Homo sapiens: one gene and its partner. The protein of the gene in region 1 purifies or fractionates together with the protein of each later gene. This does not show direct contact. Each region holds a gene or a part of one and is shown in the gene's direction. Other genes may lie near its edges.

Region 1 (7,497 bases):
GCCAAGGGAAGAGTTTCTGGAAGGACACAGCAGGATGAAATGCCACGATGGAATAAAGTGATGTGAGAACTGGAAGAGTCTAGTTAGGACATAACAGGTGATTTTTTGCCAGAGTGTTGTTTGAAGAAGGGCTGAGATTGAAGCCAACCCACCAATGAAGAGTGAACCTGCACCTGAGTAGAGACAGTGGATACCTATTGCAGATTAGGAGTTTGTGGTGAAAAGGAGGCAGGAAAAGGATGGTAGTGGGAGAAATCTCTAAATGGGGCATGTTTATAAACTTTGAGGCAGTAGCTAGCAAAGGTAACATGGAAAATTCAGGAGAGAGAAACAATGATGGGACAGGTTCTAAAGGAGCCTGAAAGAGAAAGCATCAAGCCCACAGGTAGAGGGAGGTATTAGTCATGAAGAATTGATCCATCTTCCACCCTCTTAAGACTGGGAGGGAGGAGGTAAGGGTAAGTTCAGATACAGATGAACTTATAGGTATGGCAGTAGAAGGCACACCTATGAAATAGTTCACTTTTCTTAGTGAAATGGAGGCAGGGTTATCTGCTGAGAGTGTGAAGCAAGTAGTGGTTGAGGACAGTTGCTGTTGGATGAAGCTGGCCTTGGAGACAGGTTAAAACAATTCTAGACAGCTGAAGGCATAGCTAAATTAGAGACCAAAAATTTTTTGGCTCTAATATGTAGGAATATATGATTCTCTCCAACATGTCTCACCAGCCCAGGTGTATCTGTGAGAATCACCCTGACCATGTCTTCAGGCAGGTCATGAAGAGTTAGTGTGAGGTTGAAAATAATGGAAATGGGGACCATTTGACCACAACCCTCTCTGGTTCTTCATAGTCCTCTGAGGCCTCAGTTCTACAAACAAAATTGATGCCTACCTACAATTGGTACTGCCATCCACTACTGGCAAGGGGAAAGAAGTTTAAAGAACAGACTGTCATTCCCCAAATTCGAAGGGAAGAATCAAATTGTTAGTCTTTTACCTGGGCATCTCAGAGTGTTCTAAGATTACAGGTAATACAACAATATACTAATATTCATCCTTTGGTTAAGTTCTTCAGCTCTCAAATTTGATGTATGTTCTTTCTTTCATTCAAGATGAAACAAAGTTAAGGACATTCATTTTCAGGGCTTTATGTATAATAGATAGGATTAGTGGGATTAAGAACCACATGACATGTAAAATAAAACTACACAAATATTTAAATTATTTAGTATGTGTGCCTATGGCACATAACAATGTCATCCTGCTGTGTCAAGGGAACTTAAAGCATCTTTCCATTATTCATTCCCACAGTTACCTTTCAGGTAGGTACACAGCTAGGTTTTCTCTCTAAACCTAGCCAATAAGAGAAAAATGCCTCACTGTTAGAAAGAATTAAATAGAAATTTTTCTCCTTCCAAGCTGATTTCAATAAATTGCTTCAGGATGTTGTTTTAAAATTGCTATTGGTTATTTTAATTGATTTAATGAGAAGCTTTTTTTTCTTCTAAAAAATTAAGGCATGTTCTCTTCTTCCTCAAAAGAGAACAACAATAGTAAAAAAAAAAAAAAAAGAAAAAAAAAGAAAAGAAAAAATGGCTGTTGCTTCATAGGATATTACAAAACAATGAAAATATCAACTAACCACACAGAAGAGTATCACTGCTACACTCACCTTGCTCTGAGCCCATTCTTTCCTATGAAGTATTGCTCATGGAGGTAGTTGTTTTTTCAGAGTCTCATAATAGTAAATATGTCTAAAGCATTAGAGTGAACTAATCCTATTTCTATGCCTAAAATAGTGCTATCATCCTATCAAGTAAACATGAATCAAATAGAAAAGATTTCATAAGTTATAAAGGCAATTTTTTTTAGAGATGTCATCTGATTTAGAAGGCCAACATTGTAATTTTAATACTGGGATATAAAGAAAAATCACTGGGGCTGAGACATTAGAATTACCCCACTAGTTATTGAGGAGGTCAGAATTTACTTTGTCATTATAAGCATTCTAGGTTACTGAATGAGAGACTGGTGTACTTCAGTCAAAAAGCTTAACAATTTCCCTTTTATGTGTTTGATATGTGAATACAAAGTGACTAACATTTACTCCCTGGCCTCAAGAAGGTCCTTACAACTCTTGACTTTCTGAAAACCACTTTGAGACAACATCTGGTCAGCTCCTCAGTGTGACAGAGCTCAATGCCAAGTTGCAACACAGAAAGAACAGGAAGGCCTGCTGCCATTCATTCACTACAGTGAAGGTACATGCTTTTTAGGAAGGGCTTACATTTAAAAGTAAATTACTGAGAGGTATTTTTCTAAGTAAAATTCACCCTTAAACATCTCTTATGGAATTATCTGGTGCCTCTTGGGCCAGTTTTTCCACCATGATTTGAACAGATCATTGTTTCATTGGCTGACTACCCAGGTTACACTTAGAAACTTTGAAAAACATGTATCTTTAAACAATGTATGCACATTTGGAAACATGGTTTTGTTTTGTGCTTTTTAAAAGACAGAAAAGGGATCACGCTGTACTTATACATCTCATTTATATCCCCCACACATCAAGGTGTTTAGGAGGTTTTCAATGTATCTGTAGCAAGTTATACATTCTGAAAATGGCCACAGCAATATTTCTGGTCCCATATGCTCTTTGAGAACCTTGCCTCTCTCCACCAAGAGTAGAGTCTATTTCCCCTCCTGTCAAAACTGGATATAATTTTGTGTCTGCCTAGATACAATGCAGCAGAACTGACACTACATAACTTGTTTTTTGTTTCTTTTTGATGAGAGGGAGTCTCCCTGTGTTGCCCAGGCTGGAGTGCAGTGGCGCAATCTCGGCTTACTGCAACCTCCGCCTCCCGGGTTCAAGTGATTCTCCTCAGCCTCCTGAGTAGCTGGGACTACAGGCATGAGCTACCACGCCCGGCTAATTTTTGTATTTTTCGGCAGAGATGAGGTTTCACTGTGTTGGCCAGGCTGGTCTCGAACTCCTGGCCTCAAGAGATCCTCCCGCCTGGGCCTCCCAAAATGCCAGGATTACAGGCGTGAGGCACCGCACCTGGCTAGAGACTACATGACTTCTAAGGCTAGGTTATAATGGGTAATATGCTTCTGATTGACTTTCTCGCACGATACTTGCCGTGGAACCCAGCCACCAGGCTGTGACAAAGCCCAAACCAATCAATGCTAAAAGACCACCGGGAGAGGTCTACATGGACTAGAACTGAGGCCTCCAGCCTTTATCCTGCATCAACCATCAGCGGTGAAAGTGAAGTTTTCAAATAATTCTACTCCTCAGCCTTAGAGTCTTCCAACTGAAGCTCTACGCATAATGGAGTAGAGAAAAGCCATCCCAGTTGTGCTCTGTCTGGATTTCAGAGGCACAGAATCTGCGAGCATAATAAATACTTTATACATAGAGTTTAGATTACGGCAAAAAGTTGCAAACGTGTTCCGTCATAGAATTATATATTGAAAACGTCCATCTGCGGCACACCAGACCAGCTCTATAAATCAGGTTTTTAACAAAACCGAATTTGTTCAGTGAGCGGGTGAGTTACACTACCTGTCTCAGCTCAGACCTGCCGGGAGTCAATTGTGGACTAGAGCAGAAGGCGCCCAGCCACAAGCTCAAGTTCTATCCCCTTTGCACTCGATAGGCAGATCCCCTGGGAGGATCAGGCCACCTGTTTACCAGTGCTTCCTAACCTATTTGTGTCACAAGTTTAGGAGTGTGCTTCTTAGCCCTGGTCACTCTCTTTCACCACCTCTCTCTAACCCTTCCCCAGGTGTGCTAGCAATTGCCCAACACCTGTCAGTCACTTTTGCCTCCAATTTTACTGGGTGCGAGGAGCAGAGTAAGGAGGGAGAGGAAGAGGGCTGACTCCCTTGCCTCAAAGTGGCAAGGGCCAGCTGAACTTAATTCACACTGCAAACCACCACGTTTCGACAGCCATCCCCATATTTTCACAGCTCAAATCTTCCTTTCTTTTTCGGTCGGCTTCTCTGATTTGCTCCATTTTTAATCGCTCCTCCCCCATCCTCCTTGCCCCTGGTCAGGGCAAACATTAAACGCTGTGCAGCTTTAAAAGGGCATTTTTAGGTGACTTGTAAACGGCTTGTTCCACAGGCCCCGAATTGGCGAGATTCGCTACAGCTCGGAGTGCGCGGTAGACTTTAAGCAGGGAGCGCCTGCCCGGTCCATCCCTCCCCGGCCCCGCGTGGCAAGCACCGCAGGTTGAGGCGCCCCCAAACCGAGGAAGAGGGTTTGGGAGCCTGTGACTCCAAAGCCCTCTGCAACTTCCCGGCCCCACAGCCCCACCCACTAGCACGCGGCCTTCCCCGCAGCCCGCAGGAGACACCTTTGTCCCCGCCCCTCCACAGGTCACCTCCCTCCACGCCCCTCTCTCTTGGCCCGGGCAGCCGGCAGGCAGGGAAGTGTCGTAAAGCCAGGCCCAGGAAACTTTACCCGGCCTAACAGCTGAGGCGCTTTACGGCGACGGCGGCTGAGTGAGAACCTTGGCGGCTGTGGAGGCTGCCGCGGCTGCGAAGGAGGCGGCGGCGGTGGCGGAGGAAGAGGAGTGGCGGCAGCGGCGGCGGGGACCCGTGCGGGGTGAGCCGTGAGGAGGGGCCGCGAGTGACAGGGCTGGCGGGTGGGCCCGGGCGGACGGGGACGGTGGCCGGCTGAGCAGCTGGGCGGCGCTGAAGAGCGGGGGGGTGGCGGGGAATTGGGGGGCAGCTCCGTGAGGGACGGTTTCTGCCTTTGTTCCCCCCACCTCGGCCGCCCCCCATCCGTCGCCCCCTGTTCTCCGCGCTCCTCGGCCGGGTTTCATGGCCTCCCCTCTCGGTCTGTGTCGCTTCTAGGATGGCGGAGGTACCGCCTGGGCCTAGCAGCCTCCTCCCACCACCAGCACCTCCGGCCCCGGCGGCGGTCGAGCCCCGCTGTCCCTTCCCGGCGGGGGCCGCCCTCGCCTGCTGCAGCGAGGACGAGGAGGACGACGAAGAGCACGAAGGCGGCGGCAGCAGGAGCCCGGCGGGCGGAGAGTCGGCGACGGTGGCGGCCAAGGGGCATCCGTGCCTCCGCTGCCCTCAGCCGCCGCAGGAGCAGCAGCAGCTCAACGGATTGATTAGCCCCGAACTGCGGCACCTCCGGGCGGCCGCCTCCCTCAAGAGCAAGGTCCTGAGCGTAGCAGAGGTGGCCGCGACCACAGCCACCCCTGACGGAGGCCCCAGAGCGACTGCAACAAAAGGAGCCGGGGTACACTCGGGCGAGAGGCCCCCTCACTCCCTCTCTAGTAATGCAAGAACTGCGGTCCCCAGCCCGGTGGAGGCAGCGGCGGCGAGCGATCCCGCGGCGGCCCGCAATGGACTGGCCGAGGGCACCGAGCAGGAGGAGGAGGAGGAAGACGAGCAGGTGCGGCTGCTGTCTTCGTCCCTGACCGCCGACTGCAGCTTAAGAAGCCCTTCGGGCAGGGAGGTTGAGCCTGGGGAGGATCGGACGATACGATATGTCCGATATGAATCCGAGCTACAAATGCCCGATATCATGAGACTGATCACCAAAGATCTGTCCGAACCCTACTCCATTTATACCTATAGATATTTTATCCACAACTGGCCACAGCTGTGCTTCTTGGTAAGTGGATAGAATAAAAAGAGGGTGAACCCAGCAGTGATCGAGACTGTGCGGGGCAGGGAGTGAGGGCCCAGAATGTGGCAGTGGATATCTCCTGCTGCGTATCATAGTACGTTATATGATGTCAAGTGCTGTACACATTCCTAGTTATTTAATGAAATTGTTTTGAAGGTAAGACTTCATGATTCGGGTTAACGTGATACTAGTGTAACTGCAGCAAGCCTGTATGGTGGCGTGTTTCACTGGGGTGGGGGTCTTGTGTCTTGTTTACATTAGATTATAATCGTGTTTAACCGTCTTTAATTACCCGCCCGCATCCTCAAACACTTTACAGTCATTTAATTTGAACATGGTTCTGTTCAGATACAGGCCTTATTAGTCTCTCGATTACAACCATAATCAGGGAAGAGTGTATGCATAAACATGTTGTGGTGAACATGGATGTCAGCAAACTTGGTGTGGTCATATTGGAGAATTAAATCTTACAAGCATTTTCGGTAATTATGGAGATGTTTCTCTTTACTTCAACTGGACAATTAACAGTTGTAGCCAGCCTGCTTTCTGGTACTCCATTCCAGAAAGCGCTACTAACACTTCTGGTGGCTGAAAGACTCCTGAAACTTGAACAAAATACCCTTTTGTGGAATGTAGAAAACTTGTGTGAAATTGTTACCGATCTGATTTTTTTTTTTTTAATTTAAGAAACTGGTTGTAGATGTGGCCAAACACTAGTAACACTGGCTTGTGTAGAGTATAATTGACAATAATATTACACGTAAGTGAAAGACTTTTGGACGGTTTTTAAAAATTAACATAGTATTGGCAGTACCAGTAATTTCTTCACAATAATATTGACCCATTTCAGTCTGTATGAACCCTTTAACTTAAACGTTGACTGCAGGTGTATGCTTTGTATCATGTGCTCACAAGCATATTGTTTCTGTTGAATTTTACTACAGAAAGATGACATCCTTTTAAGGAATATTTTTTAATATGTGAAGGGAAAAGCCACCATTACTTAATGTTTTAGCATTGGCTTAGTTTCACTTGGTAATTCCCTGCAAGATATTTTGACAATACTTATCTTTTTGATTCTCTAGCTTGGTGATAATTTGAAAATGTAACCTGGGTATTGTAGATAATGGTAGTTCTATTTTCTGTCTTAACTTGCTTAAACTTCAATTCAGTACATTTGTTAAAACTGTGGGTACTACTTTATATTCTTGAAAACTGCTCTTTCAGTATTCTAAGCATTGTATCAGAATAGTTCTAAGACATGTCTGTGTCAATGAATATGAGAAAATGATTTATAGCACTATTATAAATGTCATATCAAATGCCACTGTAATTGCTAAAAATTGTAGATTTAGTTGTAAGTTAACCCACAGAAGTAGATGATTGAGTCACATTTCAAGTTGAAATAGATGTTTTTCTGTCAATTCCAGGAAATAGTTGTGTATATGATATTTAGTCAACTTTGAGTCCTGATAGTTACCTAAGCCTCTCTCAACTTGTTTGCTATTTTAGACTCTGGTCAACAATATTAGTAAACTTTAGATTTGATTTTATGTAGAACCCTCCCAATTCACCAGCTAATGTGTATGTTAGCCTTTAGTAGCTCAAGTTTGTTTAATATTCTGAGTATCTAGAATTGCGATATGCACAAGTGGTTGACCTATAAGATTTACTGGTGCAAGTATGAATCAGGAGGTATTAAACAATAATAAAACAGTAAAAAAACAACCAGGCCATTTAAAACTGAAGCCTTTATCTTGGCATACTTTTAAATTTAAGTTTCCCATAGGAACTATTTTTTTAAAAATACAGATGCGTAAATGTCTGTTTATTTTAAATCATA
Region 2 (7,023 bases), on another chromosome or scaffold:
TTTTATATTTTTAGTAGAGACGGGGTTTCACCGTGTTAGCCAGGATGGTCTGGATCTCCTGACCTTGTGATCTGCCCGCCTCAGCCTCCCAAAGTGCTGGGATTATAGGCATGAGCCACCACGCCTGGCCTGGATTATTTCTTGGAAGTGGAAGTTTTGAGTCAAAAACTAGAAATTGTTTTTAATCTTTGTTACTATTACCAGATTGTTTTTCAGAAGCAGTCAAACTAATTTAAAACACTCACTCCCAACAGGGCATTCTGGCTCATGCCTACAATCCCAGCACTTTGGGAGGCCAAGGCAGGTGGATCACCTGAGGTCAGGAGTTCGAGACCAGCCTGGCCAACATGGTGAAACCCTGTCTCTACTAAAAATACAAAAATTAGCTGGGCGTGGTGGTGCACACCTGTAATCCCAGCTACTCAGGAGGCTGACACAGGAGAATCGCTTGAACCCGGGAGGTGGAAGTTGCAGTGAGCCGAGATTGCACCACTGCACTCCAGCCTGGGTGACAGAGCGAGACGCTGTCTCAAAAAAAAAAAACAAAAAAAACCCACACACACCCATTCCCTTAAACACTCAAAGTCTTTTTCACTTCAGGACTAATTTATTACTTAATCTCTAGGTTACTAAGTAGTCATAATGAGGCAAGTAGGGCATGTGGGAGTCAGACAGACTTGGGCTTGAACACAATCTTGCTGTATATTACTGCTGAACCTCAAGGGTTTGTTTTGTTTTTTGTTGTTGTTGTTGTTTTTGAGACAGTCTCGCTCTGTTGCCCAGGCTGGAGTGCAGTGGCACAATCTCGGCTCACTGCAGCCTCTGGCTTCCTGCAGCCTCTGCCTCCTGGGTTCAAGGGATTTTCCTGCCTCAGCCTGCTGAGCAGCTGGGATTACAGGCATGAGCCACCGCGCCCAGCCTGCATGGGCTCATTCTCTTATCTGACATGGAGAGAGAAAAGGGTGCAGACATCCAGGCTAGCCTCCTTCCGTGGCCATTTCTACTCTTACCACCCACCCCTTCCTCCATTTCTCCTATATAGTTCCTGCCTCACGCTGGGGACCGCATCTTGATCACGGGGGCAGCCGACTCTAAGGTGCATGTGCACGACCTGACAGTAAAGGAGACCATCCACATGTTTGGAGACCACACAAACCGGGTGAAGCGCATCGCCACAGCGCCCATGTGGCCCAACACATTCTGGAGTGCTGCTGAGGATGGGCTTATCCGGTAAGAGTCTGGGGCATCTAGTGGAGCCTGTCGCTCCCCCATCCCATCATCCTATAGTGTTTCCTTCTACAGACCTAGCTCTTTCCCTCCAGCAGAGGTCCAACCTCCTTTGTCTGCCCAGGGCAGTTGTCTGTGTACAAACTCCACTGGGAACATTTGCTTACTCCGCCCTCACCTTCCTCCCTCTTTGCCCTCCTTTGTACTACCTCTAGGCCCACAAGCTTTTTCTCACCACCTCAGGTGTCCAGGGTCTCTACTGCCTCTGGGCATTCACGTTACTCTTTCCTCTACTTGAGATTCTCTGTCCCCAGCTCTTCCCATGTCGGACTCTTTCTTATCCTAAGGAGATCAGCTTCAGTTACCTCTTCAGAAGCACCTTCTCTGACCATCCTGTCTAAAGTAGACAGACGTTATGCTTGTTTTAACAATTATATCCTCTGTAACTCTAATTGCCACCTGTAGTTATTTTTATTAATTAATTAATTTTTATTTATTTATTTTTTTTTTTATTGATCATTCTTGGGTGTTTCTCGCAGAGGGGGATTTGGCAGGGTCATATGACAATAGTGGAGGGAAGGTCAGCAGATTAACAAGTGAACAAAGGTCTCTGGTTTTCCTAGGCAGAGGACCCTGCGGCCCTCTGCAGTGTTTGTGTCCCTGGGTACTTGAGATTAGGGAGTGGTGATGACTCTTAATGAGCATGCTGCCTTCAAGCATCTGTTTAACAAAGCACATCTTGCACCGCCCTTAATCCATTTAACCCTGAGTGGACACAGCACATGTTTCAGAGAGCACAGGGTTGGGGGTAAGGTCACAGATCAACAGGATCCCAAGGCAGAAGAATTTTTCTTAGTACAGAACAAAATGAAAAGTCTCCCATGTCTACTTCTTTCTACACAGACACGGCAACCATCCGATTTCTCAATCTTTTCCCCACCTTTCCCCCCTTTCTATTCCACAAAACCGCCATTGTCATCCTGGCCCGTTCTCAATGAGCTGTTGGGTACACCTCCCAGACGGGGTGGTGGCCAGGCAGAGGGGCTCCTCACTTCCCAGTAGGGGTGGCCGGGCAGAGGCACCCCTCACCTCCCGGACGGGGCGGCTGGCCGGGCGGGGGGCTGACCCCCCCCCCACCTCCCTCCCGGACGGGGCGGCTGGCTGGGCGGGGGGCTGACCCCCCCACCTCCCTCCCGGACGGGGCGGCTGGCCGGGCAGGGGGCTGACCCCCCCACCTCCCTCCTGGACGGGGCGGCTGGCTGGGCAGAGGGGCTCCTCACTTCCCAGTAGGGGCGGCCGGGCAGAGGCGCCCCTCACCTCCCGGACGGGGCGGCTGGCCGGGCAGAGGGGCTCCTCACTTCCCAGACGGGGTGGTTGCCGGGCGGAGAGGCTCCTCACTTCTCAGACGGGGCGGCTGCCGGGCAGAGGGGCTCCTCAGTTCTCAGACGGGGTGGTTGCCAGGCAGAGGGTCTCCTCACTTCTCAGACGGGGCGGCTGGGCAGAGACGCTCTTCACCTCCCAGACGGGGTCGCGGCCGGGCAGAGGCGCTCCTCACATCTCAGACGATGGGCGGCCGGGCAGAGACGCTCCTCACTTCCTAGATGGGATGGCGGCCGGGCAGAGACGCTCCTCACTTTCCAGACTGGGCAGCCAGGCAGAGGGGCTCCTCACATCCCAGACGATGGGCGGCCAGGCAGAGACGCTCCTCACTTCCCAGACGGGATGGCGGCCAGGCAGAGGCTGCAATCTCGGCACTTTGGGAGGCCAAGGCAGGCGGCTGGGAGGTGGAGGTTGTAGCAAGCCGAGATCACGCCACTGCACTCCAGCCTGGGCACCATTGAGCACTGAGTGAACGAGACTCCGTCTGCAATCCCGGCACCTCGGGAGGCCGAGGCTGGCGGATCACTCGCGGTTAGGAGCTGGAGACCGGCCCGGCCAACACAGCGAAACCCCGTCTCCACCAAAAAAATACGAAAACCAGTCAGGCGTGGCGGCACGCGCCTGCAATCGCAGGCACTCGGCAGGCTGAGGCAGGAGAATCAGGCAGGGAGATTGCAGTGAGCCGAGATGGCAGCAGTACAGTCCAGCTTCGGCTCGGCATCAGAGAGAGACCGTGGAAAGAGAGGGAGAGGGAGACCGTGGAAAGAGAGGGAGAGGGAGACCGTGGGGAGAGGGAGAGGGAGACCGTGGGGAGGGGGAGGGGGAGAGGGAGAGGGAGCTAATTAATTTATTTTCTGAGACAGGGTCTCACTCCATTCTATTGCCGAGGTTGGAGTGCAGTGGCGTGATCATGGCTCACTGCAGCCTTGACTTCCTGGGCTCAGGCGATTCTCCCACCTCAGCCTCCTGAATACCTGGGACTACAGACACGCTCCACCATGCTTGGCTAATTTTTCTATTTTTTTTGTAGAGATGGGGTTTCTCTGTGTTGCCCAGGCAGGTCTCAAACTCCTGGGCTCAAGTGATCCTCCCACCTCGGCCTCCCACAGTGCTATGATTGCTGGTGTGAGCTACCACACCTGGCCTTATTTTATTTTTACTTATTGGTTTACTTTTTTGTCTGTATCCTCACTAAATAGTAAAAGTAAACTCTCTTAGAGCAACTCCATGTCTGTCTTGTTCTTGGTTGTATCCCTAGAGCCCAGCACAGCGCCTGGCACATAGAGCCGCTTGATACATTTCTCTTGAACAGTTGGTCAGTGGCTATATACCTGGGAGGGGGCAAGCCACCCGGAAATGGTAAAATGGACTGTCCCCTTTTCCAGTGCCCTGCATTGTTACACATTTGCCTCTACTTCCCTTCATTCTAAAATGGTGTCGTTGCCCTTCTTTAACTCCTTTCTTCAGCTGTGACCTTAGAACTTCTTTCTTATCTCCCCAGCCTGCTTTAATCTGTCTCCCTTGAGTTCCTGTAGGACTTTGTGCCCTCTTTCCTTTTACAGATGAGGAATATCTAAGTCATATATAAATTATAACATAGTCAAGAGCAAGGCAGTGAAGTCAGACAGACCTGGGGTCAAATCCTAGCAATCGCACTCAGTATTTGACTGGGGTAAGTCACTGCATCCCTGAACCTCAGAAGACAGAATGCACTTTGTCAGTGGCAGGTCCAACTCTGTGTAGCACTTTTTGACCTTGGCTGACCAGATTTTGCCAGGGCCAGCTGGTAGAAGCGGAGCGTCTAGCGCATTGGGTAGGATCCTAAGTGTTTAGGCATAGGCACAGTCAGAGAAGGTGTCCTAGCAGAAGGTGAACATAAGCTGGGCCTTCCAGAACAGACAGGATTTGGATGAGCAAGGAAAAGCAGAGTGTATTCCCCAGCTTGAGCAGAGTTTGCAAAGGCAGAAATAAACATGGCATGTGCAGGATAAAGAATTCTGTAGTTATAATTGACCCACATTTAGAAAACTGAGGAATAAGGTTGGAGAGAAATGTGAAATTGAGTCTTGAAAACCAGACTGAGGAGTTTGGTAAAAGTAAACTTGTGCTAAAAGTATTGAGGAATCTCTGCAATTTTTTTGAGCAGGAGAGTGATGTAAAATAATATTTTAGGAAGAGCAGCCTGGTGAAGATGGCTTAGAAAGACAAGGTGAACAGCAAAGAGGTGATAACAGATGTCTAGGCAAGAGGGGAGAGCATATAGGTGATGTCCCCCCTACCCACCACTCTCTGAGGATACCTGTGTATTGGCAGCACAAAGTTTCCCCGTCTGGAGCGGTGGGAGTTTGCTGCTGTTTGGTAGACTTTTTGGCATTACCTTTACTGCGTGGATGAGACTTTTAGGCTTGCCTTGGCCCATGGTATATCTAGATAGCTCTTAGATGATCTGCAGAGTCTCTTTTCTGTCACCTCCATACCTTGTTTCATGAAAGAAACTAGATTAGGTAGGAACGGAGCAGTGTTTAAGATGCAGTCTCAGAAAGCTTCCCCAGCTCTGCACTTACTAGCAGTGTCATCTCAGTCAGGTTATTCAACATCTTTGAACTTCAGTATTCTAATGATACCTAGGGATGGCGTTAGGAATTAATTAAGGGGCAATACTGGACATAAAGCACATTTTCACTAAGTGTTGGTAATCAGTAGTAGTATAATAGTAGCAATAATACTAACATCTGTAGAATATGTACAATAGTATCCACCTTAGGAGTTCTAGTAGAATAGAATGTGTGAGAAGCCTACTACAGGTACCTGGCACACTGTGGACACTCAAGAAATGGGAGTTGTTTTTGACATTCTTATTTAGAAACAGGTCCAAAGTCCCTCCCAATCCTCTTGCATAACAAGAACTTATCTTTTCCCCTGCCTTCCTCTCAAGGACCCCAAGCCCCAATTCCCTAACTCTGTCCTCTCTCACAGCCAGTATGACCTTCGAGAGAACAGCAAACACTCGGAGGTGCTGATTGACCTGACAGAGTACTGTGGCCAGCTGGTGGAGGCCAAGTGCCTCACTGTCAACCCCCAGGACAACAACTGCCTGGCAGTTGGGGCCAGCGGGCCCTTCGTGAGGCTCTATGACATCCGCATGATCCATAACCACAGGTATGAATAGTTCAGCCTCCTGTCTCCTGTGAGTAAGTCCCCAGAGAACCTACTGCCCCTTTCCCTCACTGCCATTGCCATGCCCTCTTCTTCTATCACAGCTCACTGCAGCCTCAACCTCCCAGGCTCAAGCGATCCTCCCATCTCAGCCTCTCAAGTAGCTGAGACTACAGTCACACGCCACCTCGCTTGGCTAATTTTTTAATTTTTTTATAGGGGCGGGGTCTTTCCTTGTTGCCCAGGCTGGTCTCAAACTCGAGCTAAAGCAATCTTTCCACCTCGACCTCCCAAAGTGCTGGGACTACAAGCATGAGCCACTGTGCCTGGCCCCTTCTTTTATTTATTTATTTATTGTTTTACTTTTTTTTTTTTTTTTTTTTTTGAGACAGAGTCTTGCTCTGTCACCCGTGTTGGAGCGCAGTGGCACAATCTCAGCTCACTGCAACCTCTGCCTCCCGGGTTCAAGCTGTTGTCCTGCCGAGTAGCTGGGATTACAGGCACCTGCCACCACACCTGGCTAATTTTTGTATTATTAGTAGAGACGGGGTTTCACCATGTTGACCAGGCTAGTCTTGAACTCCTGACCTCAGGTGATCTGCCCGCCTCGGCCTCCCAAAGTGTTGGGATTACAGACGTCAGCCACCACACCCAGCCTGGCCCCTTCTTCTTTATGAAATGGACTTTCTTCAATTTTGTGATTTTTTAAAAAACTTAATCCTCGCTTATGTTGGAAAATATGAAAAGTATAAATTAGGCCGGGCGTGGTGGCTCACGCCTGTAATCCCAGCACTTTGGGAGGCCGAGGCAGGCGGATCACGAGGTCAGGAGATCGAGACCATCCTGGCTAACACGGTGAAACCCCGTCTCTACTAAAAATACAAAAAATTAGCCGGGCGTGGTGGCGGGTGCCTGTAGTCCCAGCTACTGGGGAGGCTGAGGCAGGAGAATGGCGTCAACCTGGGAGGCGGAGCTTGCAGTGAGCAGAGATCCTGCCACTGCACTCCAGCCTGGGTGGCAGAGTGAGACTCAGTCTCAATTAAAAAAAAAAAAAAAAAAGTATAAATTACCCATAATCTCTTACATAAATTCCTTATGATTTCCTTATATTTATTTATTCTTATAATTTCTTATATAAATCTCTTATAGTGTCTTTCTTAAAGAAATCACTGTATATAATATTTCCTGCTAGTTCTTATAACACTCAGAACCCCCACAGCACTCTCAGACCTGAGTTGCCTCTCCAGCCTGGGCTTTCCA

Evidence for each region. Proteins that work in one complex are often made in the same cells at the same time.
Region 2: the proteins of NAA30 (region 1) and WDTC1 purify together in Homo sapiens (co-immunoprecipitation; 2 studies listed by BioGRID and IntAct, with this or other methods). This does not show direct contact.

The regions. Positions count from the first base shown.
Region 1 is NC_000014.9:57,386,090-57,393,586, forward strand, and holds the start of NAA30 (N-alpha-acetyltransferase 30), read left to right. Parts: upstream 1-4,496; 5' UTR 4,497-4,616; intron 4,617-4,867; 5' UTR 4,868-4,868; coding exon 4,869-5,639; intron 5,640-7,497. UniProt on the Homo sapiens protein: Catalytic subunit of the N-terminal acetyltransferase C (NatC) complex. Catalyzes acetylation of the N-terminal methionine residues of peptides beginning with Met-Leu-Ala and Met-Leu-Gly.
Region 2 is NC_000001.11:27,286,632-27,293,654, forward strand, and holds part of WDTC1 (WD and tetratricopeptide repeats protein 1), read left to right. Parts: intron 1-1,042; coding exon 1,043-1,230; intron 1,231-5,583; coding exon 5,584-5,766; intron 5,767-7,023. UniProt on the Homo sapiens protein: May function as a substrate receptor for CUL4-DDB1 E3 ubiquitin-protein ligase complex.